Linked DNA regions of Homo sapiens. The protein of the gene in region 1 purifies or fractionates together with the protein of each later gene. This does not show direct contact. Each region holds a gene or a part of one and is shown in the gene's direction. Other genes may lie near its edges.

Region 1 (3,500 bases):
AAAGCATAGTTGAATAGCACTTTTAGATTTCAGCAGGCCTTGAGAGGTGATTTTTTAAAAATTCTAAAAAGTTCACATCTGCTTCACATTCATTGTTTAAAATGAAAACAGAGAAGCTCACACATGCTTGATAAAGCTGTAGAATACGTAATGATTAAGTTTTTACGTGCTTTTAGATGATAGCTAAGTCCTGTAAGGCTAGAGACCCCATCTATGTAAGAGATCATTCTACACATATTCCCAGCACAATTCCTGGTATTTAGTAAGGCCTGAAAAATCTGGGCCAGGCATGGTGGTTCATGCGTGTAATCCCAGCACTTTGGGAGGCCAAGGAGGTAGGACTGCGTGAGCCCATGAATTCAAGACCAGCATGGGCAACATAGTGAGACCCTGTCTCTACGAAAAATAAAGAAGTTACCCGAGCGTGGTGGCACATGCCTGTGGTCCCAGCTACTCAGTAGACTAAGGCGAGAGGATTGATTGAGCCCAGGAAGTTGAGGCTTCAGTGAGCTATGATCACGCCACTGTGCTGCAGCCTGGGTGACAGAGTGAGACCCTGTCTCAAAAAAAAAAGAAAAAGAACCTGAGTTAAATGGATGGTTGAAGTAAAGAGAGACAGAACCCAAAAGATGAGGCAATTCACTCCTTTCCTTGTAGTGAGAATGAAATTAGCCATCTCTTGAAATATATTTCTATCAACATATCCTTAGGAAATTTTTAGCTTGGACATGGTGGCTCACACCTGTAACCCCGAGGTTGAGCTACTCCGGAGGCTGAGGTGGGAGGATTGTTTGAGCCCAGGAGGTTGAGGCTGCAGTGAGCCAAGATTGTGCCACTGCCCTCCAGCCTGGGCGACAGAGTGAGATCCTGTTTCCAAACAAAAACAGAAACACAAAATTATAATATGCAAACAAGAATGGCAAATCTTTTTAATCACCCAAGGCTGCTATATTCCTTTGCTTGCCACATAAGCCATTTATTGCAGTCTCTTATAAGGGGACGTGTATGCTACAGGAAATTGAACTACAGGAAATTCGAGGCTCTGGTTATTAAACCTTCCTTCTGACTGCTCTGGGTCACTGCATCTCTTCTAACAAGTGAAACACACACACACACACACACACACACAAACACACACACACACATACTCTAATTGTGCCTGGAAGCTAGGTTACCAAAGGGAGGGATGACAATTCCAGATCAGCTTCTAACCTCCTCCCTTCTGCTCAGGTCGCCTTCGTCAGACGTCAGAATGATTCCTTGCAGAGCCGCGCTGACCTTTGCCCGATGTCTGATCCGGAGAAAAATCGTGACCCTGGACAGTCTAGAAGACACCAAATTATGCCGCTGCTTATCCACCATGGACCTCATTGCCCTGGGCGTTGGAAGCACCCTTGGGGCCGGGGTTTATGTCCTCGCTGGGGAGGTGGCCAAGGCAGACTCGGGCCCCAGCATCGTGGTGTCCTTCCTCATTGCTGCCCTGGCTTCAGTGATGGCTGGCCTCTGCTATGCCGAATTTGGGGCCCGTGTTCCCAAGACGGGGTCTGCATATTTGTACACCTACGTGACTGTCGGAGAGCTGTGGGCCTTCATCACTGGCTGGAATCTCATTTTATCGTATGTGATAGGTATGTTTCAAAAAGAAATCTAACTTGTGTGGAATGGAAGAAATCGCAGCCCTGAGTCACAGCCCTTAGGTTCAGTTGTAGGTGTTGGGTACATCACTTGATGTCTGTGTGTCTCATTTTTGTCATCTCGAAAATGTCTCCTTCTAATTACAAAATTCTGTGGGTTTTTTTTAAGACAGTCTCACTCTGTCGCCCAGGCTTGAAGTGCAGTGGCGTGATCTCAGCTCGCTGCAACCTCTGCCTCCTGGCTTCAAGCGATTCTCCTGCTTCAGCCTCCTGAGTAGCTGGGATTACAGGCACCTGCCACCATGCCTGGCTAATTTTTTGCATTTTTAGTAAAGACGGGGTTTCACCATGTTGACCAAGCTGGTCTCGAACTCCTGACCTCAGGTGATCCACTCACCTCGGCCTCCCAAAGTGCTGGGATTGCAGGTGTGAGCCACGGCACCCGGCCACAAAATTCTGTGATTTTTGCTTCATCTCTGACTATGCCTTTTAGTGGGCTTGCAAACTTTTTAAGTTATAATTCTTTATTGCAAATAAAGTTACCTGATTCCAGAGTTATGGATTTGAACATTTGATGACTACTGTATGATTATAAATATCCAGATACTGTATATGTGATTAAAATTTTCAATCTTTTGTGAACTCATGTTTATCCTATAATAGAGTAGCAAATGATGCTACTTTAATTTGCCCCCAGTGACTTCGTATTCTCTGTTCTGTTTTGGGAAGGTACATCAAGTGTTGCAAGAGCCTGGAGTGGCACCTTTGATGAACTTCTTAGCAAACAGATTGGTCAGTTTTTGAGGACATACTTCAGAATGAATTACACTGGTCTTGCAGAATATCCCGATTTTTTTGCTGTGTGCCTTATATTACTTCTAGCAGGTAAGAAAACCAGTTATGAGTCTCTGCAGAATGAGCCACACTATTTGTCTCAGGAAAATAGGTTACTTCTGAATTTGGGGCCTGAGTTCCCAAGATGAGATTAGTATATTTACACATTTATGTCACTGTTAGACATCTGTGGGGTTTATCACTGGCTGGAATCACATTTTAACCTAAGTCTAAATTGTGTGCAATGGTAAAAATAGCACTTCTGAGTAAATGGCACCTGGTACACACTAAATAATAGGATGAGGACATTGATTTTTTAAATCGTTAATTGCAGGTTTGCAGGAATAGCGGTGGTTTCAGTAAGGAAGAATGTGTAATTTCTTGGCATTATTTCATCTTGCTAGATACAACTAGGGATATTTGCAATTTCTAGAAGAATTTCTGTTTTTCTGACATGGCTTCATCTATATAATGTAGGCCTTTGATTGTAAAGGAAGCAAGTTCTAATCACCTGTCATTTTGTAATGTCGACATTATATAGGCAAACATACTTAGTACTAGGATTTTCCAGTTTTTGTCAGTATTGTAGCATAGTGGTTTTAGGAGGCACAGGAATTCTAATAACCACATTTCAATCCTGCTGTGCCACTCACTCTGCTTTAGAACATAGAACAATTTATTTAATCTTTCCCTCACTCGTACATAAAATGAGGGCATCAGTGTCTGCCTCCTATAGCCTTCTCGTTTGGTTCCTAGTAAGCACTCACGTGGTGGCTGATTTTATTTCATAGGCATAGCTAATCCCTGCTCTGTCTCCTTATATTTGTTTTAACTATTTGAACATTTTCTTTTTTTTTTTTTTTTTTTTTTTTTGAGATGGAGTCTGACTCTGTCGCCCAGGCTGGAGTACAGTGGTACTGCAACCTCCGTCTCCCGGGTGCAAGCGATTCTTCTGCCTCAGCCTCCTGAGTAGCTGGGACTACAGGTGCGCGCCACCGCACCTGGCTGATTTTTGTATTTTTAGTAGAGACG
Region 2 (3,500 bases), on another chromosome or scaffold:
AAAGCTACTAAACGTCTTTCATAGCAATTAGAATAAAATTCAAACTCTTCGGCATGGCCTACACACAAGGCCCTAAATAATGTAAATGATTGGACTCGCTCCCAGTTCTCCTGTCACTCTCCTCAATCACCATGCCCCAGCCTCAGTGGCCTTCCTTGGCACACCCACAGCTCATTCCTACCTCAAGGCCTTTGACTTGCCATTGCTCATGAGACCGATTGCTTACCATCACTCAGGATCTCATTCAAAACTTCATTCCTGGAAAAGGTCCTTCCCGACCATCAAGCTAGAGGAGCTTGCTGCACCCCTTCTCTGCCCACAGCTATGGATCTCCAAGTGTGGGCTTCAGACCAGAAGCGTCAGTGTTGCCTGCAAGCATTTCATTTTGTGTTGTGTTTTCTCTGGAAATGCAGAGTCTTAGGCCCCACCACAGACCCACTGAAGGAACAGCTACATTTTAACCAGACCCCAGAGTGATTGTGCTTTAAAAATTTCAGAAGCACTGATCTAGAGTTTCCCCTTCTAATTTTCCTGTGTATCTGTTACAAGGTGTGTCCATTGCTGCAGGTAATCTGGCATTTGTTTACCTGTTTATTATTTCTCTTCCCTAAATAGAATTTAAGGTCCACAAGGGCAGCACCTCGTCTGGCTCGTTCACTTCTGGATCCCCGGCACGTAGCGTCAGTGCACACAGTACATGCTCAATAAGTATTTAGATGAGTGAAAGAATAAATGAATATAATGGAAATTATTTTATGTTCTTTGAAATGTATAACTGAAGGCTGGGTGTCATAGCTCAGCCTGTAATCCCAGCACTTTGGGAGGCCAAGGTGGGAGGATTGCTTGAGTCCAGTACTTCAAGACCAGCCTTGGCACATGGCAAAGCTGCAACTCTATAAAAAAATACCAAAAAAAAAATATATATATATAGCTGGGTGTGGTAGTCTCAGCTACTTCGGGAGGCTGAGGCAGGAGAATCACTTGAACCTCGGAGGTCAAGGCTGCAGTGAGTCATGATTGCAACTGCACTGTAGCCTGGGCAACAGAGGAACATCCTGTCTCAAAAAAACAAAACAAAACAAAACAAACAAAAAGGATTGCATAATTCTACAATAAAAATCTTCATGGCTTTCACTTGTTTGTAAAATCGGGGTGATTTTTCTCTCCCAACATCATCGTTATACAGGGGTTTCATTCTATATCTTGGGCATCAAGTGCTATTAAACTATTGTGGCCTGTGAAGAATTACTTATTTATCCTTGCTTTGGGGCAGTTTGTCTTCAGAACCAAAGTTTAGATTTTGTTTAGACTGATTCTCTACTGACTTAACACCATAACTGGTTTTTTTTTTTTTTTTTAGTATTTAAGAAGCACTCTCGTTCAATCCAGAGTTAACATTATCTTTAAAGGTTTTTTATTCAAAATGAATGTTTGATATTTGTATCAAGTTTTATCAAATAAGTTAACAATTTAAAAAAAATCAGGTTTTAAAAATGTTAAGTCAAATGCAAGATTTAAAGTTAAATTGCAAATAAAAACTGATAGGGCATATAATGTATCCAGTTTTTTACATCTGAGATAGGATTCCAGGAAAGACCTATAGTTTCTGATATTATCCTGCATTTTTTTTTTTTGAAATGGAGTTTTGCTCTTGTTGCCCAGGCTGGAGTGCAGTGGTGCAGTCTCGGCCCACTGCAACCTCTGCTTCCAGGGTTCAAGTGATTCTCCTGCCTTAGTCTCCCAACTAGCTGGGATTACAGGTGCACACCACCATGTCCGGCTAATTTTTTGTATTTTGAGTAGAGACGGGTTTCACCATGCTGGCCAGCCTGGTCTCGAACTCTTGACCTTGTGATCTGCTCGCCTCGGCCTCCCAAGGTGGTGGGATTATAGGTGTGATCCACGGGCCCGGCCCTACATTTAAAAAATACATTCCCAGTATATTTCTTAATGCATATCCTGGTGAAATTTGTGAAGAAACAACTTTTCAATCTATATTCTTTGAGTGAATAAATAGCACAACTTACATTCTATGGTTTTCAACTGGGGGCAGTCGTGTCCCAGCGGATGTTTGGCAATGGCTGTGACTGCATTTTTGGTAGTCACACCTGGGATGGAGGAGTACTGGCAGCATCTAGTTGGGGGAGCTCTGGGGTACTGTTAGTTATGTAATGCACAGAACACCCCACAGCACAAAGAATTATCTAGCCCAAAATGTCAGTAGTCCACTGTTAAGAGACAGTGGACAACTGTCTCCTTCTGCATAGAGAAGTCTCCTTCTGCAAATACTAATGCCATTGGAAAACGAATACTTTGCCCTACCTTCTGGAGAAGAGAATATATAGAAATTGGCAACTGAGAGATTCAGATGGGTATACTGGCACCTTTAGATATGTTCATTTTAGATGATTATTTCTAATCAGAAATCTAGTGACTGGCCTCCCTCTCTTTGGGGCAAATCACTCTCTCAACACAGGACATTTAAGACATTTCACAACTTAGTTGATTTTAGAATTGGATAACGTTCTCAAATAATGATACATTTTTTAAAATAGGGAAATTCAAATATAGGGTTACTGGTTTTCCTTATTTTACAGATGGGGTCGAGGATTTGGTCTTTTGGGTTCCATTTTTGGAAAGGATGGTGTATTAAACCAGCCAAACAGTGTCTTTGGACTTATATTTTATATACTACAGTTATTACTTGGTAAGTATTTATCAATACAAAAATAAGTTTGTTATATTCCGTTTAGTACTTTGTGTCTTTGCCCTGAAGTGTCTTGATGTTAAAGCATGTGTTATTTATAGAACCACTAGCGTGTACAACATTTTTGTGTTATGAAAACTTGATTCACTGAGATTTTTATTATATTATTGTTGAATTTATGTCAATTGCTGTTTAATCATGGAGAGCAGTATCTCATGATGTCCAGAAAAACCAGTCCCATTCCAGGAAATTATCACTCCCATCTTCCCTGTTAACGTTTTTCCTTATTTTATAGACTCAGTGGCCTTGAAAAATATCATATATTAAGGGGACATTAACAAGAAACCATATTCATAATCCCATTACCTTTACATATCCACTATTTCCACAGTCTTCTGCTTTTAAAAATAATTTTTGGGCTGGGTGCGGTGGTGCACACCTGTAATCCCAGCACTTAGGGAGGCCAAGATAGGCAGATCATCTGAGGTTGGGAGTTCGAGACCAGCCTGGCCAACATAAAGAAACCCTGTCTCTACTAAAAATACAAAATTAGCTGGGCGAGGTGGTGCATGCCTGTAATCCCAGCTACTCATGAGGCTGAGGCTGGAGAGTCACTTGAACCCGGGAGACGGAGGTTGTAGTGAGCTGAGATCGCGCCATTGCACTCCAGCCTGGGCAACAAGAGCGAAACTCCGTCTCACAAAAAAGAAATAAATAATAATAATAATAATAACTTGGGGCCAGGTGCAGTGGCTCACACCTGTAATCCTAGGACTTTGGGAGGCCGAGAAGG
Region 3 (3,500 bases), on another chromosome or scaffold:
CAGAACTTTTCACCACTGAGCCCTGCCACCTCTTGCATGCACCTTTACAATCTGCAGCCTGGCATCGCATTCGACTTTTAGCACTTGCGATGTCCTTCCTCAGTGCACAGTGTTCTTGAGACAAAAGTAGCGGGTAATGATGCTTACTTGCAATTAGTGCGACAGGGTTCCCTCCAGCCTGATCCGTCATACTGTAAACAAGCACTGAAGGCTGGGCACAGTAGCTCATTCCCATAATCCTAACATTTTGGAAAGCTGAGGCAGGAGGATCGCTTAAGGCCAGGAGGTGAGACTGGTCTAGGCAGCATAATAAGAACCGATTTTTAAAAAATTGGCCAGTTGTGGTGGCCCGCACCTATAGTCTCACCTGCTCAGGAGGCTGAGGCAGGAGGATCGCTTAAACCCAGGAGTTTGAGAGTGCAGTGAGCTATGATTGTGTCACTGCACTGCAGCCGGGATGGCAGAGTGAGACCCTGTCTGAGAGGCTCCTGCTCTCCAGCTTTGAGGAATAAACATTCAGGGCTCCACCTAGGTTTTTTTGGTTGGTTTGGGTTTTGTTTGTTTGCTGGCACTGTCTTTGGTTTTGTTATCAGAGTAATTAATGCTGGTCTCATAAAATGAGTTGGGAAGTATTTCCTTCTCTGATAGTGTTTGGAAGAGATTATGTAGATTTGTTGATCTTTCCAAAAAATTGCTTTTGTTTTCATGGATTTTTTTTTCTTTTCTCTTTCGTTGATTTCTGCTTTGTCTTTATTATTTCCTTCCTTCTCCTTGCTTTGAATTTATTTTGCTTTTTCTAGAAAAGCTTAGAATTCGAGACCTTACTTCTTTTCTCCTTTTTTTTTTTTTTTGAGACGTCTCACTCTGTCGCCAGGTTGGAGGGCAGTGGCGTGATATCGGCTCACTGCAACCTCCGCCTCCCGCGTTCAAGCAATTCTCCTGCCTCCACCTCCTCAATAGCTGGGATTACAGGCGTGTGCCACCGCGCTTGGCTAATTTTTGTATTTTTAGTAGAGACGAGGTTTCACCATGTTGGCCAGGATGGTCTCAATCTCTTGACCTCATGATCTGCCCACCTCGGCCTCCCAGAGTGCTGGGATTACAGGCCTGAGCTACCGCGCCTGGCCTCTTTTCTCTTTTTTTGAGACTGGGTCTCGCTCTGTCGCCCAGGCTGTAGTAGTGCAGTAGTGCGATCTCTGCTCACTGCAGCCTCCACCTCCCAGGCTCAAGGGATTCTCCTGCCTCAGCCTCCTGAAGTAGCTGGGACCACAGGCGCCCACCACCGTGCCTGGCTAATTTTTGTATTTTTTGTTTCGTCATGTTGCCCAGGCTGGTCTCGAATTCCTGAGCTCAGGTGAATCTGCCTGCCTTGGCTTCCCGAAGTGCTGGGATTATAGACGTGAGCCACTGCACCTGGCCTCTTCTTTTCTAATAATTTAATGCTATAAATTTCCCTTTATGTACTACTTTAGCTGCACCCAGCAAATTTTAATGTGTGAGTTTTCGTTTTCATTCAGATCAAAAAGTTTTTTGTAAGACTTCCTCTTGGGAGCATAGATTAACAAGTATAGTTTAATATATTAGTTATAATTAATAATTACTAATAATTGGTTAATATAGTTTAATAAGTATATTGTTTAATTTCCAAGAGTTGGAGATTTTATTGTATCTTTTTGTTATTAAATTTTAGTCTAATTCCATTATGGGCAGAGAACATATTTAATATGGTTTCAATGCTTTTAAATTTGTTAAGGTTTATCTTAGAGCCAGGATATGGTCTTTCTTGGTGAATTATTCCATGTATACCTGAAAGAGTGTGTATTTTGGTTTTGGTGGGTGGATCGTTCTATAAATGTCAGATTTAATTTGTTGATGGTATTAGTTCTTCTCTGTCATTGCCGATTTTTCTGCATACTTGTTCTATTACTCAGAGAGAGGTTGTTGAAGTCTCCAGCTGTGATTTTTAGATTTGTCTATTTCTCTTTTCATTTCTGTTTATTTTCGCTTCCTGTATTTTGCAGCTCTGTTGATGCATATACATTGAGGATGATGATGTCTTCTTGCTGAATTGACCTTTTTATCCTTTCGTAATGTCCTTCTGTATTCCTTTGCCTTATATTCATAGAGCTGCTCCAGCTTTCTTTCTTTTTTCGGAGACAGTCTCACTTTGTCACCCAGGCTGGAGTGCAGTGGTATGATTTTGGCTCACTGCAGCCTTGAGCTCCTGGGCTCAAGCAGTCCTCCTGCCTCAGCCCCACAAGTAACTGGGACTACGGGTGCACACCACCACACACAGCTAATTTTTGTATTTTTTGTAGAGATGGGGTTTCACCATGTTGGCCAGGCTGGTCTCGAACTCCTGAGCTCAAGCAATCCGCCCGCCTCGGTCTTCGAAAGTGTTGGGATTACAGGCGTGAGCCACCGCTCCTGGCCACGTTGTTTTGGTTAATGTTTGCGTGGTGTATCTTTTGCATCCTTTTACTTTTAATCTACCTGTATCATTATATTTGACATGAGTTTCTTGCAGATCTTATAGTTAGATGGGGTTTTTAAAACTCTGTTCTGAAAAATCTGCCTTTTAATGGTATGTTTAGATCATTTACCTTTAATAAAATTATTGATATTTTGGATTTACGTATACCATTTTATTTGTTCTATTTTTATTTCTATTCTTCCTCTTTTTAATAAATTGAACATTTTTAGTATTACATTTTTCTTTTTCTTTTTTTTTACACTGTTCTCTTTGCGTAGTTTTTGTAGTGGTTGTTCTGGGGGTTACAATGTATGTATTAAACTTCTCACAATCTACTTAGAATCTGTATTTGCATATTTCAGATGGAATGTGGAAACCCTACTGTCACTTAGGCCTTTTGCCCTCCGTCCCCTTCTTGACATGCTCTTCTATGTTGCATACATGTACACTGATAACTCCTCAGACAGTGCAACACATTTGACTTTCTGTCATCAAACACATTCTAAGAAACTCAAGAGGAAATGAATAGTATTATACAGTTGGCCCTGGAGCAACATGGGTTTGAACTGTGTGAGTGTACTTATAACATGGCTTCTTTTCAACCCAAAACAGATCGAAAGCACAGTATTCTCGGGATGTAGAACCTGTGTATAGATACGGAGGGCTGACTTTTTGTATATGTGGGTTCCGCAAGGCTAACCACAGGACTTAGTATGCACAGGTGTGGTTATGCACGGGTGGTCTTGTCACTGATCTCTGTTCAGATCGTTTCTGGAGTTGTCCCTTGGTTTCCAAGAAGTGGTGGTTCCATAATTTGGATACCATAATTAGAGGCTGCCCAAGTGCTTTATATGAAATGGCATCATATTTGCATATAACCTACACACATCCTCCTGCAGACTTTCAGTCATCTCTAGATTACTTATAATGCCTCATACACTGTAAATGCTATGAAAATAGTTGTTATACTGTATTATTTATTTTGTTGTTGTTGTTGTTGTTGTTATACTGTTATTTCTTATTTGTG
Region 4 (3,500 bases), on another chromosome or scaffold:
GGAGACTGAGGCAGGAGTATTGCTTGAACACAGGAGTTCAAGGCGGCAGTGAGCTATGATTGTGCCAGTACATTCCAGCCTGGATGACAGAGTAAGACCCTGTCTCTAAAAAATAAAAATTAAAAAAAAGAAAGAAACAAAAACATTCTTGATTGGATATTTATATGGGAAATACTATGAGACTTATTTTTAAGCCAATACTTCAAGTTAGAAATTATATATATAATTTTTTTTTTGAGATAAGGCCTCACTTTGTCTCCCAGGCTGTACTGCAGTGATGTGATCACAGCTCACTGCAACCCCAAACTCCTGGGCTCAAATGATCCTCCTGCCTCAGCCTCCTGAGTAGCTAAGACTTCAGGCATTTGCCACCACACCCAGCTAATTAAAAAAAAAAAAAAATTGTAGAGGTGGGGGTCTCACTATGTTTCCCAGGCTGGTCTCAGACTCCTGGACTCAAGCGATCCTCCTGTCTCAGCCTCCCAAAGTGCTGAGATTACAGGTGTGAGCCACTGTGCCCAGACGATGTTTGTATTTAATTTTTTTGCATATATGGTTATAATGCATTCAGTAAACATTCACCTGTATTGTGAATGACATGCATTGAATTTCTGTTACTTCTCAGCACTTGGGAATGGCTCTGAGGGAACTGTTTGACTCTTGGGTGTGCTTAGGAGAAAACTAGAACACAAATTTTTTTGCTGACTGGCTCACTTAAAATTGTACAATTTTTAATTTTCGTATTTTCTTATCCTATACATGGTATTGGCAAATTCTTTTGATTTTTTTTTTTTTTTAAGACAGTCTCGCTTTGTCACCCAGGCTAGAGTGCAGTGGCGCGATCTCCGCTCACTGCAACCTCCGCCCCCCACCCCCCCCAGCCCCGCCCAGATTCAGGTGATTCTCCTGCCTCAGCCTCCTGAGTAGCTGGGATTACAGGCACGTCCCACCATGCCCAACGGATTTTTTCGTATTGTTAGTAGAGACAGGGTTTCGCCATGTTGGCCAGGCCAGTCTCGAACCCTGGACCTCAGATGATCAATCCACTTCGGCCTCCCAGAGTGCTGGGATTACAGGTGTGACCCATCCCACCAGGCCTTCCTTTGAAATTTTTAGCATGTAGTTTATCCTCCTTAACATTAAGTTATGGCTTATGCAGATAATCATACTTGTTTCTCTTTAAAACTATTAGATTGTCCAAAATTTAGATGAAATACCAAATTAAGGATATTAATTAGTTAAGCTGTGTCTGTCTCCACATTTTAATTGGAAGTGAAGTTCCCCCTCAGGAAAGGAGGAAGAATAGGATGATATGCATAGGTATCAATCATTCATTCATTCACGTACATTTTGGAAAAGTTAGGAACAGAAACAGATGTTGTATATATGTAGCTTATTCTTACTGTGTGAAGCCGGTAAAGCTGGTACAGGTTATTTTTATTCTTTCTTTAAGCATTATGTTATAGAAAATTTCAATCACCTGCAAAAGTAGAGATAATGGTATAATGAGCCCCTTTATGGTATAAAGTTGGGCAAATGGTATAATTTATCCTTTACCCAACTTTTACAGTTATCGGCACATGACCAATCTTGTTTTATCTATTCCCCCCACCCACTATCCTCACTCCCTTTAGTGATTTTGAAGCAAATCCCAGACATTATATAATTTTACCCATAAATATTTCTGTATTTATCTCCAAAATCGCTTCTTCCTTTCCTTCCATTCTCAAATTCTTATTTTTACAAGTGTAGAAATTTTATTTTATGTCAGTTACATCAGTGATTATTAATATAAGTTAATGTAAAACTCTCCCCTTAACTCTTGATTTAATTCAGTTATATTAATAATAAAAGGTACATGCATAATATGTATTGCTAATAAATTTACTAAGAATCTGTCAAATTCTAAGCAGGAGATGTAGTTCTTTAAAAGTCAACTGCTCTTTTTCTATGGATACCTCTGTGGGGAGAAGAAATCAAAGAAAGACACATGAATCAAAAAATGCTTTGCTTCAAAACATCATGTTGTGCACCATAAATATACAGAATTTTTGTCAATTTTTTAAAAAATGCATTTTAAAAAGTGTTTTACTTATAACATGAATACATCTAAGTGTTTGGGGAGCAAATCGTATCTCCCTTTTTGTTGTTGCTAAAAATGATATATCCAGAACCATTTCTCTCGTCTTTCTCTGCCACCACCCTCAACTAAACTACTGCTACCTCTTACCTAGATTATTGCAAAAGCTTCCTAGTTCATCTCATTGTTTCTCCCCTTCTGTCCTTGCAGTCTGTTTTCAATATACCCACCAGAGTGATCTTATTAAACAGGTTAGATCATATAATTCCTCTGCCTAAGATTTTCCAAGTGCTTGCTCTTTTGTTCAGAGTAAAAGCCAAAGTCTCTGCTTGATCTGTATGCCAACCCCTACACTTCTTCCAATCCATTTCTCATCCTCCATCACTATTCTCTCACTCTTTATTCACACTAGCCTTATTGCAATTCAGAAGTCCCAGGCATACTTCAGTTTTAGGAGCTTTGTCCTGACTGTTACTACCTCTACCTGGAATGTTCTTCCTGCAGACATCTGCTGGCTCCTTCGCTCCTTTCAAGTCTTTATTCAAATATTGCGTTATTCATGAGTGAAGCTTTTTCCAGCCATTCAGTATAATGTTCTGACCCTCCCCATTACTTCCCTGTTGCCTTTCCTTGCTTGATTTCTCAGCACTTAATGCTATTTAACCTACTCCAAAACTTGCTAGTCTCATTTATCTCAGGAAGGAAGGGATTTTGTCTGCTTTAGTTTTGTTCTCCATTTAACAAAAGCCATTTCTCAACTCTGCATCCCCTTTTAGGTGACACCATTTCTTTCTCATGTATTGATGAATTGAGTCATTTTCTGTAAGTGAATTAGTTTTCTGTGATAGCATATTTGTTGCTAGGCTTTGGAACTACCAAAATGAAGTAATCCCTGCCCCAGCCAATCTTATGGGGGGTTCTTTTTTTCTAATGTATATTCGGATTGTTGCCAATTTTTTCCTGTTACAAAAAGTGTTACAATGACTATTATTGTTTATTTATTTATTTATTTTGAAGTTAAATACCCAGAAGTGGAATTGCTGGGTCATGGGTCACGTACATTATGACTGTTACTAAATATTGCCAAAGTATTTTCTAAAACAGAGTTCTCCTTTCCCTACATCTTGCTCAACACTTTGTACTGTCAGACTTGAAAAAACGTACCAGTCTGATGGGTGTGAAATAGTGTCTCATTTTGTTCTAATTTGCATTTTCTTGATTGCTGGTGAGATGCAGGTATCCTCAATTTCATTCACATGAATAGATTGCCCGTTTTCCATTGGGTAGTTTGGCCTTTCCTAATTCTTGCTATAGCCTGGATGCCAATTCTTTGTTGTATATGTTGTAAATATCTTCTAGTCTGTTCCGTGTATTTAATTTAGTTTATGGTATCTTTTTTTATACAGAAAGTTTAAATTTA

The links. The genes of interacting proteins can lie anywhere in the genome.
Region 2: the proteins of SLC7A2 (region 1) and VKORC1L1 purify together in Homo sapiens (affinity purification with mass spectrometry; one large-scale study listed by BioGRID and IntAct). This does not show direct contact.
Region 3: the proteins of SLC7A2 (region 1) and LMTK2 purify together in Homo sapiens (affinity purification with mass spectrometry; one large-scale study listed by BioGRID and IntAct). This does not show direct contact.
Region 4: the proteins of SLC7A2 (region 1) and ATP11B purify together in Homo sapiens (affinity purification with mass spectrometry; one large-scale study listed by BioGRID and IntAct). This does not show direct contact.

What each region holds. Positions count from the first base shown.
Region 1 is NC_000008.11:17,542,088-17,545,587, forward strand, and holds part of SLC7A2 (cationic amino acid transporter 2), read left to right. Parts: intron 1-1,230; coding exon of another isoform or gene 1,231-1,252; coding exon 1,253-1,628; intron 1,629-2,363; coding exon 2,364-2,519; intron 2,520-3,500. UniProt on the Homo sapiens protein: Functions as a permease involved in the transport of the cationic amino acids (L-arginine, L-lysine, L-ornithine and L-homoarginine); the affinity for its substrates differs between isoforms created by alternative splicing.
Region 2 is NC_000007.14:65,946,074-65,949,573, forward strand, and holds part of VKORC1L1 (vitamin K epoxide reductase complex subunit 1-like protein 1), read left to right. Parts: intron 1-2,597; coding exon 2,598-2,707; intron 2,708-3,500. UniProt on the Homo sapiens protein: Involved in vitamin K metabolism. Can reduce inactive vitamin K 2,3-epoxide to active vitamin K, and may contribute to vitamin K-mediated protection against oxidative stress.
Region 3 is NC_000007.14:98,197,362-98,200,861, forward strand, and holds part of LMTK2 (serine/threonine-protein kinase LMTK2 precursor), read left to right. Parts: intron 1-3,500. UniProt on the Homo sapiens protein: Phosphorylates PPP1C, phosphorylase b and CFTR.
Region 4 is NC_000003.12:182,800,004-182,803,503, forward strand, and holds part of ATP11B (phospholipid-transporting ATPase IF), read left to right. Parts: intron 1-3,500. UniProt on the Homo sapiens protein: Catalytic component of a P4-ATPase flippase complex which catalyzes the hydrolysis of ATP coupled to the transport of aminophospholipids, phosphatidylserines (PS) and phosphatidylethanolamines (PE), from the outer to the inner leaflet of intracellular membranes.